2 separate regions of the Homo sapiens genome follow, and region 2 is linked to region 1. Evidence: fine-mapped expression QTL. A gene starts in region 1. The other region holds a variant in brackets. All regions are shown on one strand. Distances are from middle to middle. Region 1 holds the start of SAR1A (secretion associated Ras related GTPase 1A). Region 2 overlaps MACROH2A2 (macroH2A.2 histone).

Evidence for each region.
Region 2: its variant is fine-mapped to the expression of SAR1A in whole blood (TOPMed, PIP 0.98).

Annotation. Positions count from the first base shown.
Region 1 is chr10:70,168,093-70,173,092 of GRCh38, forward strand. SAR1A (secretion associated Ras related GTPase 1A) reads right to left here and starts at 2,422. Exons shown (of 7, transcript NM_020150.5): 1 at 2,321-2,422. RefSeq lists enhancers at 1,388-2,046, 2,047-2,703, 2,837-2,916 and a silencer at 2,347-2,706.
Region 2 is chr10:70,104,781-70,110,303 of GRCh38, forward strand. It overlaps MACROH2A2 (macroH2A.2 histone), which reads left to right. Exons shown (of 9, transcript NM_018649.3): 8 at 4,253-4,427. Among named protein-coding and RNA genes, the nearest start is that of AIFM2, 25 kb to the right of the region's middle. RefSeq lists an enhancer at 2,706-2,785. The variant C/T (reference allele first, on the strand shown) is at 2,792.

The sequences.
Region 1 (5,000 bases):
ATTAAGGTCATTCCCACTCAGATCATTTTGGAGGGAAGAATTAAAGCATCCAAGTAGCTAAATCCCGGCTGCTGCTGATTTGTATGCTCCAAGGGAGGAGATGGCTTAAAAGCAGGAGTGTCAAAGGAAAATAAAATGGAAAATTAAAGTAGTTCAATTGCCATGAAAAACTATTTAAAGTGTGGCATTTTCTCCTTTTCACCTTTGCAGAATTCATCTAGTTGAAAATACTTGGCTCATGCCTGTAATCCCAGCACTTTGGGAGGCCGAGGCAAGTGGATGACCTGAGGTCAGGAGTTCGAGATCAGCCTGGCCAACATGGTGAAACCCCATCTCTACTTAAAATACAAAAATTAGCTAGGCATGGTGGGCGCCTGTTATCCCAGCTACTCGGGAGGTTGAGGCAGGAGAATCACTTGAACCCGGGAGGCAGAGGTTGTAGTGAGCCGAGGTCATGACATTGCACTCCAGTCTGGACAACAAGAGCAAAAACTCCATCTCAAAAAAAAGAAAGAAAGAAAAATTTCTAAAGTGATGTAAACATTTTTTACAAGTCTGTAAAGTATTGACTGAAAACCAGTGTAGTACAAATGTATATAGAAGTGTTGGGTTGTAAAGGAGTGATGAGAGTGGAGGCTGACTGAAGAAACTCTTCAGGTGAGCTAAAAATAATAAAAACCCTTACTAGATCCAAAGAGTCGGGTTGCACTGCTACCCAAAGTTAAGAAAATGCCCCCGCCCCCCTTTTCTTAAGACAGACCAAGACTCTGTCTCCAAGGCTGAAGTGCAGTGTTGCCATCATGGCTCACTGCAGCCTCAACCTCCCAGGCTCAAGAGATCCTCCCACCTCAGCCTCCTCAGCAGCTGAAAATGGCCTTGGTGGCTCCTCTCTCCTTAAGATCTTAGGATTTGTACCAACTCATCAGTAGTTTTACAATCTGCACAGTACTTGTACATCTCATTTCATCCCCACACCAACCCTACCAGGCAAGGATCACTGGCCTCATTTAACAAGATAAAGATGAGGATACTCCTAGTTTTGCTGAGTCCTTTAAGACGGCTCAGTTGAAAAAGTAATAGTGCCAGGGCTTAAACCCTCATCTCTAACACCAAAGCCTAAGCTCTTCCTGTTAACAGTACATAAAATTCAAACCCAAACCACAAAATTGCTGGGGAAAAAAAAAAAAACTAAAACTTCTTTAACCCACCAACTACACAGAGGATGATCTTCCGAAGTTCTCTTCCTTACAACTCATCACATCTTTTGAATGGTATTTTAATAACTAGCATTCTATTTATTTTCTATTCTTGGTCCATTGTACCACCTTACGAGAAGTTAAGAGTAATCTAAAATTTAAGGTAGGTCTCTAAACTATCAACAAAACACTATTAATGTACCTAAAATGAAAACTTGCGAATTCCAGGGCTAAATGATTCAAACAAATGTTAATAGAAAAGGAGGGCACCAATCTGACCATTAGCCAATTTAAAAATTTACGCATTACTTGTTATACATAATCAGGGCAACTTTAAGACGCCATTCCAGGCAGATTTGGGGTAGTAGGCGGCTGGCTTTTAGCTAACTCTGCTTAGCTGCGGGGTAAATGTCAAAGGTCAGCCCCATGGCGAATCTCCCTAAGCCCCCTGTCGCAACCGAAGCCGATGGAATCAACAAGACAAAGATGCTCCTGACCCACTGGCTAGAATCGTGAAGAAAACGCTAATCCATGTCAAATGCACATAAGGAAATTTTTCCATGCAGAGACCAGACAGGGGAAAAGGGGAAGGGAGAAGGAGAAAATACAGGGTTCGACCCGGGCCATCGGAAGACAACCAAGCGCTGACTTGGGGGTAAGCCCTGGACTAGGGGCCTGTAGACCAGGTTCGAGCGCTCACACTCGCTAACTGCGGAGCCTTGGCCAGCCTCAGTCTCCGAGTCTACAAAACAAGGATAATCATAAAGGGCTCCCACCCGCCTCACCGAGGGCTGTGAGGCTCTTCCGAGACAGAGGACATGGAGCCATTTCGTAAACCGGAGCGCACGGTACAGACAAGAAACTGTTATCCGGCCCAGCAGCTGCGAGACCCCCGAGCGGAATGCAAGTGGACCCCAGGCAAAGAGGACAGCAGGGGACGGAGCAGATCTGGCCAAGTTGTCCCGTCCCCGCCCAGAATCAGCCCCGCGGCCCCACAGAACCGCCTGCGTGTCACTTCCCCCCCACCCAACCCCGCCAGGGCCAGCCTCCGCTCCGACCTCCCCGCCTTCCGTCCCAGCCCCTCGAGCCCCAACTCCCCTCCCCGACGCGACCCTCAGACTCACGGCCTGAGGGGCTCCTCCGGCAAAACAGCGGCTGGCTCGGACCCTCCCTCAGAGCACACTAACCAGCAGCACCCGGGACCGCCAGCTACTCGCCGGATGTACGTCACACCCCTCCCCGGGACTTCCGGGCGCGTAATGGGCCCCGCCCCCTCACAGCGTTACGCCTCTCTGCCCCGGTGCCGTCCCACCAGCGACTCGGGCCGCGGAGGGGCGGGCATAAGGCGTGACAAAGCGCGCTCGGGGTCTGGCCCCGCCTCGGCCCCGCCTGCTCCCGTCTGGCTAGCTGACCGCGCGAGACGTGGCAGCGCCGGAACCCTGGGTCCGGGGCTGGGTCCTGGAGTCCCTGAGCGGCCTGGTACACTCGGGATCGCGGCTTCCCATTCCAGACGCACCAGGAAAGTCAGAAGTGGGTACCGACGGTGACATAGGTCCTGGGAAAGATGAGTTGACCTTGGGGCCCTCCACTTGAGGTGGATCCCTCCAAGCTTTTGCTTTTTTTCTTCCTTGCTTTTTTTTTTTTTTTTTTTTTTTTTGAGGCGGAGTCTCACTTTGTCGCCCAGGCTGGAGTGCAGTGGCGCGATCTCGGCTCACTGCAACCTCCACCTCCCGGATTCAAGCGATTCTCATACCTCGGCCTCCCGAGTAGCTGGAACTACAGGCGCATGTCACCACACCTGGCTAATTTTTTTGTATTTTTACAGAGACAGGTTTCACCGTGTTGGCCAGGCTGGTCTCGAACTTCTGACCTCAAGTGATCCGCTGGCCTCGGCCTTCCAAAATGCTGGGATGAGAGGCGTGAGCCACCGCGCCCAGCTGCTTTTGCTTTGAGTCGCACTTCCTTGCCCTGGGGTGGCCTATGTTTTAGAAAAACAGAAAAACAGCTAATATTTATTGTGCACTTATGTTCCAGGCAGAGCACTGGGTACTTTGCACGCTTTGTCTAATTTCACCGTCATTGGAGTCCTGTGACTCCAGATGCTAGTATTATCCTTATTGACAAATGAGAGAGCAATGTTCAGAATAACCTACCATGCCCAAGTTCACACAGCTAAGTGGCAAAGCAACGTGTTCACCCCAGTATATTTCGCATGCATTTTCTCATTTAATTCTCAGGACAGTCCCACGAGATTGGTACTATTATTACTCTCATTTTACAAATAAAACAGTCTAATGGAAAGATGAATGACGTCTGTGGGTTCATGAAGATCTCAATTCTCCTTTAGTAAAATTTAAATTTAACATAATCCCAATAAAAGTACTAATAGGATTAATAGGTCGTGTGTGGTTTCGTTCTTTTTTTTTAATTACCCTATTTGTTCCTAAAATTCGTATAGAAAACCAAACAAAACTAGTCCAGAAACAGGCTTTCAAAATGAAGAACAAGGAGGTGGGAACTAACCCTGTTGGATATTAAAACATATTATAGAGCCTAAGTTATTAAAACTGGTGTGCGTGCACATGCACAAACACACACACACAAAAAACACAATGGAACAGAGCAAAGTACAGAAATGACTAAAGTACATGCAGAAATAAAACTAAAGTAGCACCTGGGACTCCAGCAATACTCAGGGAGCTGAGTGGGCAAGCTCACCACCCTCTACCCTCCGCTCATCCTGGGGTCTTAGATGTTGAATTTGAACCCTGTCCTGTCACAGAAAGGTGTCAGGCCACTTCTGAGGCTTCTCACCAGCTTTAGCTAAACCAGGGACAATGTGTCCATGGGGCTTGGAACCCCTTGTGCATCCTGGAGACACAGATGCAAGCCCAGTGCAAGCCAACACATTGGATTACTGGCTTTGTTGAGAGCCTGGCTGCACGAGGTGGAGGTGTCTGAACCACAGGATGGCTTGGGAGGCTGGGGAAGGAGGGAACATGCAGGCAGATTCTCAGAAAAGCCGCAAACTCTACTTACCTAAAGGCTTGAGCAAGTTGACGAATGCCCCAGACCACCATGTACCCACTGTAAAATGGGTGAAACAGGCATTGTTGTGCACATAGTTTTTCCAGAGTACTGTTTTCAATAAATGATTCTGTTATGTGTTGTTAAATAAATTAATAAATAATAAAAGGGGTTGAGACAATTGGGTAGTCAAAAAAACCTACAGGTTGAATCTCCAAAAGTTTATTACTCTAAACAAGTTTCAAGTGATGAAAAGATGTGTGTATTTTGAAATGACACTATAAAGGTACTAGAAAAACAGAAGAAAGCATGGATTCCTTATAATTTTGCAATGAGAAGACCTTTCTGGGTATGATTGAAAATCTAGACCGGGCGTGGTGACTCATGCCTGTAATCCCAGCGCTTTGGGAGGCTGAGACTGGCGAATCACAAGGTCAGGAGTTCGAGACCAGCCTGGCCAACATGGTAAAACCCCATCTCTACTACAAATACAAAAAATTAGCCAGGCGTAGTGGCAGGCGCCTGTAATCCCAGCTACTTGGGAGGCTGAGGCAGGCGAATCGCTTGAACCCCTGCGGCAGAGGTTGCAGTGAGCCGAGATCACACCACTGCACTCCAACCCCGGGCAACAGACTGAGACTCCATCTCAAAAAAAAAAAAAAAAAAGAAAGAAAAGAAAATGTAGATGCCATAAAAGAAAAGATTGACAAATTTAACTACATAAAAATTAAAAACTTATATGGCATAACAACAATCATGACACCATAAGCAAACTCA
Region 2 (5,523 bases), 63 kb before region 1:
CCTTAGTTTGGTAGTGTCCCCAGGTGACATAGAAGGAAATGTAATTTCTTTCTGGAAGAACTCAGCTCCAGGCTGACAGCAGTTCTAAGATGCTTCCTGATTTCAACAATATTAAAATATTTAAACAAAAAAAAAGTGCATCTTAACATGGTTAAAACAGACCAACTGCAGTGCAGGCCCACCCTGTGGCAGGGGGTCGGGGAGGGTGGATCAAGAAAATATTTCAGGTGCAGAGTCAGTGAGAGGCAGCGATGCTGCATGTTCAGGGAGGCAGAAGCTGGAGCTAAGGTAAGTCCAGGGTTTCCAGGGCTGAGCAAACTGATGAAAAGTCAGGACTTTCATTCATTTGTTGAATATTGGAGCACCTGCCTGCCAGTGACTGTGGCAGGAGCCAGGCAGCAGCAAGGAATACAAAAGTGCTTCAGTGAAGATGTCAGCTGGGGCAGAACCAGTTCACGTTAAGCATCTACGGTGTGTGCTGTCGGGCGCAGGCATCAGGATGTGGATGTGATTGTAGGCCCTGAACACTCCTGAATTTTACAACCAGGCGGGGACCCCAGGGTAACACAGTACATCACTTAGCACAGCTGGCTGCTGAATTGCATGGCAGAGGCCCGGAGAGAATGGGCGAGGGAGTCAGGGACAAAGGAGGATAGCCAAGTGTGGAGACAGAGGTGCAGCCAGACCCATGTGTGCAGGGGACTGAGCCCACTGGCTGGAGGACGACTGGGCATCCAGAAAGAGCAAGAAATGGATAGACTCCAAGGGGAGAGGGGCCGACCATGAAGGGAGCCTGGGAGGACTGCAGTAAGGCCAGGGGGCAATCAGGAGCAGTTGCAGATTCTGAGTTTAAATGTGGAGTTTAAGGACCTTGGCTCCAGCAACCGTGTGGAGGATGGTTTGGCAGACAGAGGGCTGGGGCCCGAAGACCATCAAGAAAGCTGTATTGGATGAGGGTGGGGGTGGAGTGGGGGTGAAAATGAAGCACATGGGCCTGAAATGAGACAAGGCAGAGGAAACTGATGGTGTCTGCAGTGACAAAGAGGGAAAAAGGGGAATCGGGTTTCAGGAGTGAATGGCCATTTTACTGGGCACGTGTTAGCCCTGGGGCCCCAGAAAGGTCATGAGGTGCAGGTCCCTGTTGAAAGCTAAGGAGGAAAATGGCTTGCAGATGGCTGCTTAGGAGGTGGGGCTGCAGCAGAGAGAAGAGCACTGGGCCCAGACACGCAGGAAGAAGAGAGGCCATTGTGGGAAACTGAGGTGCTGTTAAAAGAAAACCCACAGTGTCACGGAAACCAGGCATCAGCAGTAGCAGCCTCTCAGCAGGACAAGGGGCCAACCTAGAGTCCCCTTTTGCTGTGGTGACTCCCAAGAACTGTGATGGCTCACCTGGGGGAAGGTTCTAGAAGCTCCCAGCAGCAGCACTGCCACCCTCAGAATGCAGGTCTTCACCAGGCAACATCACATTAGGTAAGAGAATGCCCCTAGTCATTATGTGGATAGGTGCTTATACCAAATACCAGGGTCACAGCCCTTGCAATAACTTGACCCTCATCCTTGACAACTCTGGAGAACATTACAAAGCATTATGGCTACAAGCTGTGTTATTCATTTCCAGTTGCCATGAACATACTTTGTTTTGGACTGAAATGTCATCGTGCACTACCCTGAAAGTCATTTTTTACTTGATTGGATGTTTGACATTGCCAATAGGAACATATTCCTTTTATTTAAAAATGACTTTTGGCTGGGTGCAGTATAATCCTAGCACTTTGGGAGGCCGAGGTGGGTGGATCACTTGAGGTCAGGAGTTCAAGACCAACCTGGCCAACATGGTGAAACCCCATCTCTACTAAAAATACAAAAAATTAGCCGGGCATGGTGGCGGGTGCCTGTAATCCCAGCCACTTGGGAAGCTGAGGCAGGAGAATCGAATCGCTTGAACCCGAGAGGCAGAGGTTGCAGTGAGCTGTGATCGAGCCACTGCACTCCAGCCTGGGCAACAGAGGGGCATCCTGTCTCAAAAAAAAAAAAAAAAAAAAGACTTTACATTAGAGGAATACCATTCTGCTAGTAACATGATTATACTTTTAAAATATATGAAATAAATCAGCCATGACTGTAACAAGCCAAACTCTGTCCGGCATACAATAGCAGCCAGGTGCTCGGGAAGATGGCACCATGCAGGCAAGGCCCATCTCCAGGGTCCTTGGTTCTCAGCAGAGCAGCCTCCAGTTTTAGGGGCATCATTGTTCAGTCCAAAGAGGGACACTCTGCTTCTGGTGCACAAATATACGTGGTCGTAGAGTCAGCACGCATGGCGGGCCCCTACCCAGGGCCTCGGTGTATTGTGTGGCCTGGGTCCTGCACTCAGGCGTTCACGTGTGATGACACTGAGCCCCGTCTAGGCACTGGAAGGCAGGGAGCCTACAGCCTCCCCTGATGGACGAAGGGGTCCCTTGGATTTGGCTTCTACCCATGTGAGGAAGTGCAGTCAGCACTTCCCTGACACTGTGGACATTGCCAGGAAATACTTATATAAACTAGGTGGGCATCATAGATTTCCAGTCAGTCTTTCACCTCAACCCCACACACAGCTCTGGAATACGGCGGACACACGTTTCTGTTACAAGTGCTGCCCCTAGTGGCCACGGACCCTTGCTACGCCGATTCCTGGGTTCCTGGAGGGGCACAGGGCGCAGACGGGCAGCGTGGGGGCAAGCATGGCTCATGGCTGAAGCTGCAGCTGCCTCAGGCAGATCCGAGGGAACTGCTCCCCTGGGGAGTCCCA[C/T]AGGGACTTCCCTCGAGCTTAGCAGCCACGGGGCTTTATCAACTCTGTCACCAATGGGAACCACATTTAGGGGAGTAAACAGTAAAACAAAGGAGTATGACAGAAATTGTGAGACAAGGCTGGCCTAATTCAGTTTCACAGCCCGCTTTTGAAACCCCACTCTCTGCAGGGCATGTGGAGATCATCAAATGGCAGTCCCTGTCAAGGAACTACACAATCAAGTTCAGTGGTTCTCAACTCATAGAAGGTCCTAAAATCACATAAGCATAAGCCCCTGCACCAGACCTACTGAGTCAGGACCTCTGGGTGGTCAGTACCCTGACTCTGTGGGGCCCAGGCACAGCTATTTTTTAAAAGCCACAGTAGGCCAGGTGTGATGGCTCACGCCTGTAATCCCAGCACTTTGGGTGCCTGAGGCAAGAGGATCACTTGAGCCCTGGAGTTCAAGACCAGTCTGGGCAACATAGCAAAACCTCATCTCTATAAAAAAATTTTAAAAATTAGCACATGCCTGTAATCCCAGCTACTCGAGAGGCTGAGGCACTAGAATCACTTGAACCCAGGAGGTGGAGGTTGCAGCGAGCTGAGATCGCACCACTGCACTCCAGCCTGGGCGACAGAAAAAGACTCTGTCTCAAAAAAAAACTAAAAATAAAAAAATAAAAATAAAAGCCACTGTATTCATTTCCTGTGGCTACTGTAACAAATTACCACAAAGTTCGTGGCTTCAGACAACACAAATTTGTCTTCTTACAGTTCTGGAGGCCAGAAGTCCACAATGAGTTTTAAGAGTCTAAGATCCAGGTGTTGGCAGGGCTGGTTCCTTCTGGAGGCTCAGGGAAGGATCCCTTCCTTGCCTTTTCCAGCTTCTAAGCTGCAACATTCCTTGGCTCCTGGCTGCATCGTTCCAATCTCTGTCTCCTTCATCCCACGGCCTTCTCCTGCCTTTGACCTTCTTGCCTCCCTCTTATCAGGTCCCAGGCTCACCCAGACAGTCCAGGATCATCTCCCCATCTCAAGAGCCTTCACTTAATCACATCTGCAAAGTCCTTTTTGCCATGTACGGGAACACCCACAGGTTTCAGGGAGGAGGACGTGGATGTTTTGGGATGCCATTACTTTACCTGCCACAGCCACCAGAGAGGATCTGATGTGTCCCTTTAACTAGGAACCATTGTGAGGAGGTAGCCCAACCCAGGGACTACTTGGCAGACCATATGAAAATGGCGCATCAGAGCAGCATTAAACGCTTCTACCCAAAGCTTGTGCTAACTGTGCAAAGCAATACAGCCCAGCTCTTGCTCTCGTTAAACATAGTCCACATCAGGAGCACAGGATGCTGCCCAGCCAACGTCTCTATCACTGCCTTATCTCCAGATCTAACAGGTACCTGATGAGGTTAGGCTATAACCTAGGAAACCTTAGGAAATAACCCGCGGCATTTTCTCTCCTATGTCCCAGCCGCCGTCAGCCAATCCAGTGGACTCGCAGCCAAATTTGTCATCCACTGTCACATCCCTCAGTGGGGCTCCGACAAATGTGAAGAACAGCTTGAAGAGACCATCAAAAACTGCCTGTCAGCGGCGGAGGACAAGAAGCTAAAGTCCGTCGCGTTCCCGCCTTTCCCCAGCGGCAGGTAAGATGCAGTTCCCCTGAGTTGATTCCTCCGGCTTTTTCCCTGGAAATCAGCTGCTCCCCCACTTACATCTGATCTGGGTGTTGCCAAGGGCTGCCAGCACAGCCAAGTATGCTGACCAGATGACAGGGCAGGAAACCCGGTTTTCATCCTTCAGAAACCATGGGGAAGCGAGCCCACTGGCTCCTAGGCAGCAGGTCTTCCCCGGCTGGGGCCAGCCCCAGTGCCTCCTTGATGTTAAAGCCCCAGGAGGAAGGCTAGCCCAGGGGAGGAGCGGGAGGCAGAGGCCAGCTGGTGTGTTATTTTTTGAGAGCCTTCCAGGTTCAAAGTCCATATTCCCACCAGCTGTCCATGTCCAGGACACATGATCAGAAAACGCCAGGCTCGAAGGCCTTGCTACTCAAAGTGTGGTCCATAGGCAGCAGTGACCGATGTCAGAATGCAGAATCTCAGGCCCCCCATCTCCGACCTCTGGCTCCAGAATCCCCAGAGAATTCCGTTGCTGCTCTGGGAGACTGCAGAGCCAGGAGTTCGAGGCTTTGATGAATACACCCAGAGAAGTGAAAATCTGTCCCCGAGTGATTGCTGAAAAGGAGACTGGGCAATGACTGGATTGTCACAGATCCCAGCTGGGCATTGTTTCAGATACATAATGAGGATATCTGCTGTCACATAAAACATATCCTTTCCCTTCATGCCCCTAGCCAATCTATTGCTTTAATTTTGAACACCCTCTCACCTTGAGAGCTGTCCTTTATAATATAGCTATGGTTTATAGCTGTGTCCTGGGAAGCCCAAGAGGAAAATAATGAGACCTAGGTTCCTGCTGTAATCACACATCAACCTAGGCAAGCAGCATTGAGTCTCAGCATTCCAGGCCCAGAGATGCTGTGAGATGCATTCTTTCGTCGGTGGAACCACGGCAGTGCTGTTCTGTGCTGGAATACATGCGATTGGGAAGAATTCCTATTAACAGGCCCCTCCTGGACCTGCTCCAGGGGTCTCTGTGGCTGACCCCTAACGACCATTCTGGCTGTGTCCCTGGAAGCTGGTGCTGTGGCCCAGCCTGGTGGATGGCACTATCAGTAGCTCCCTG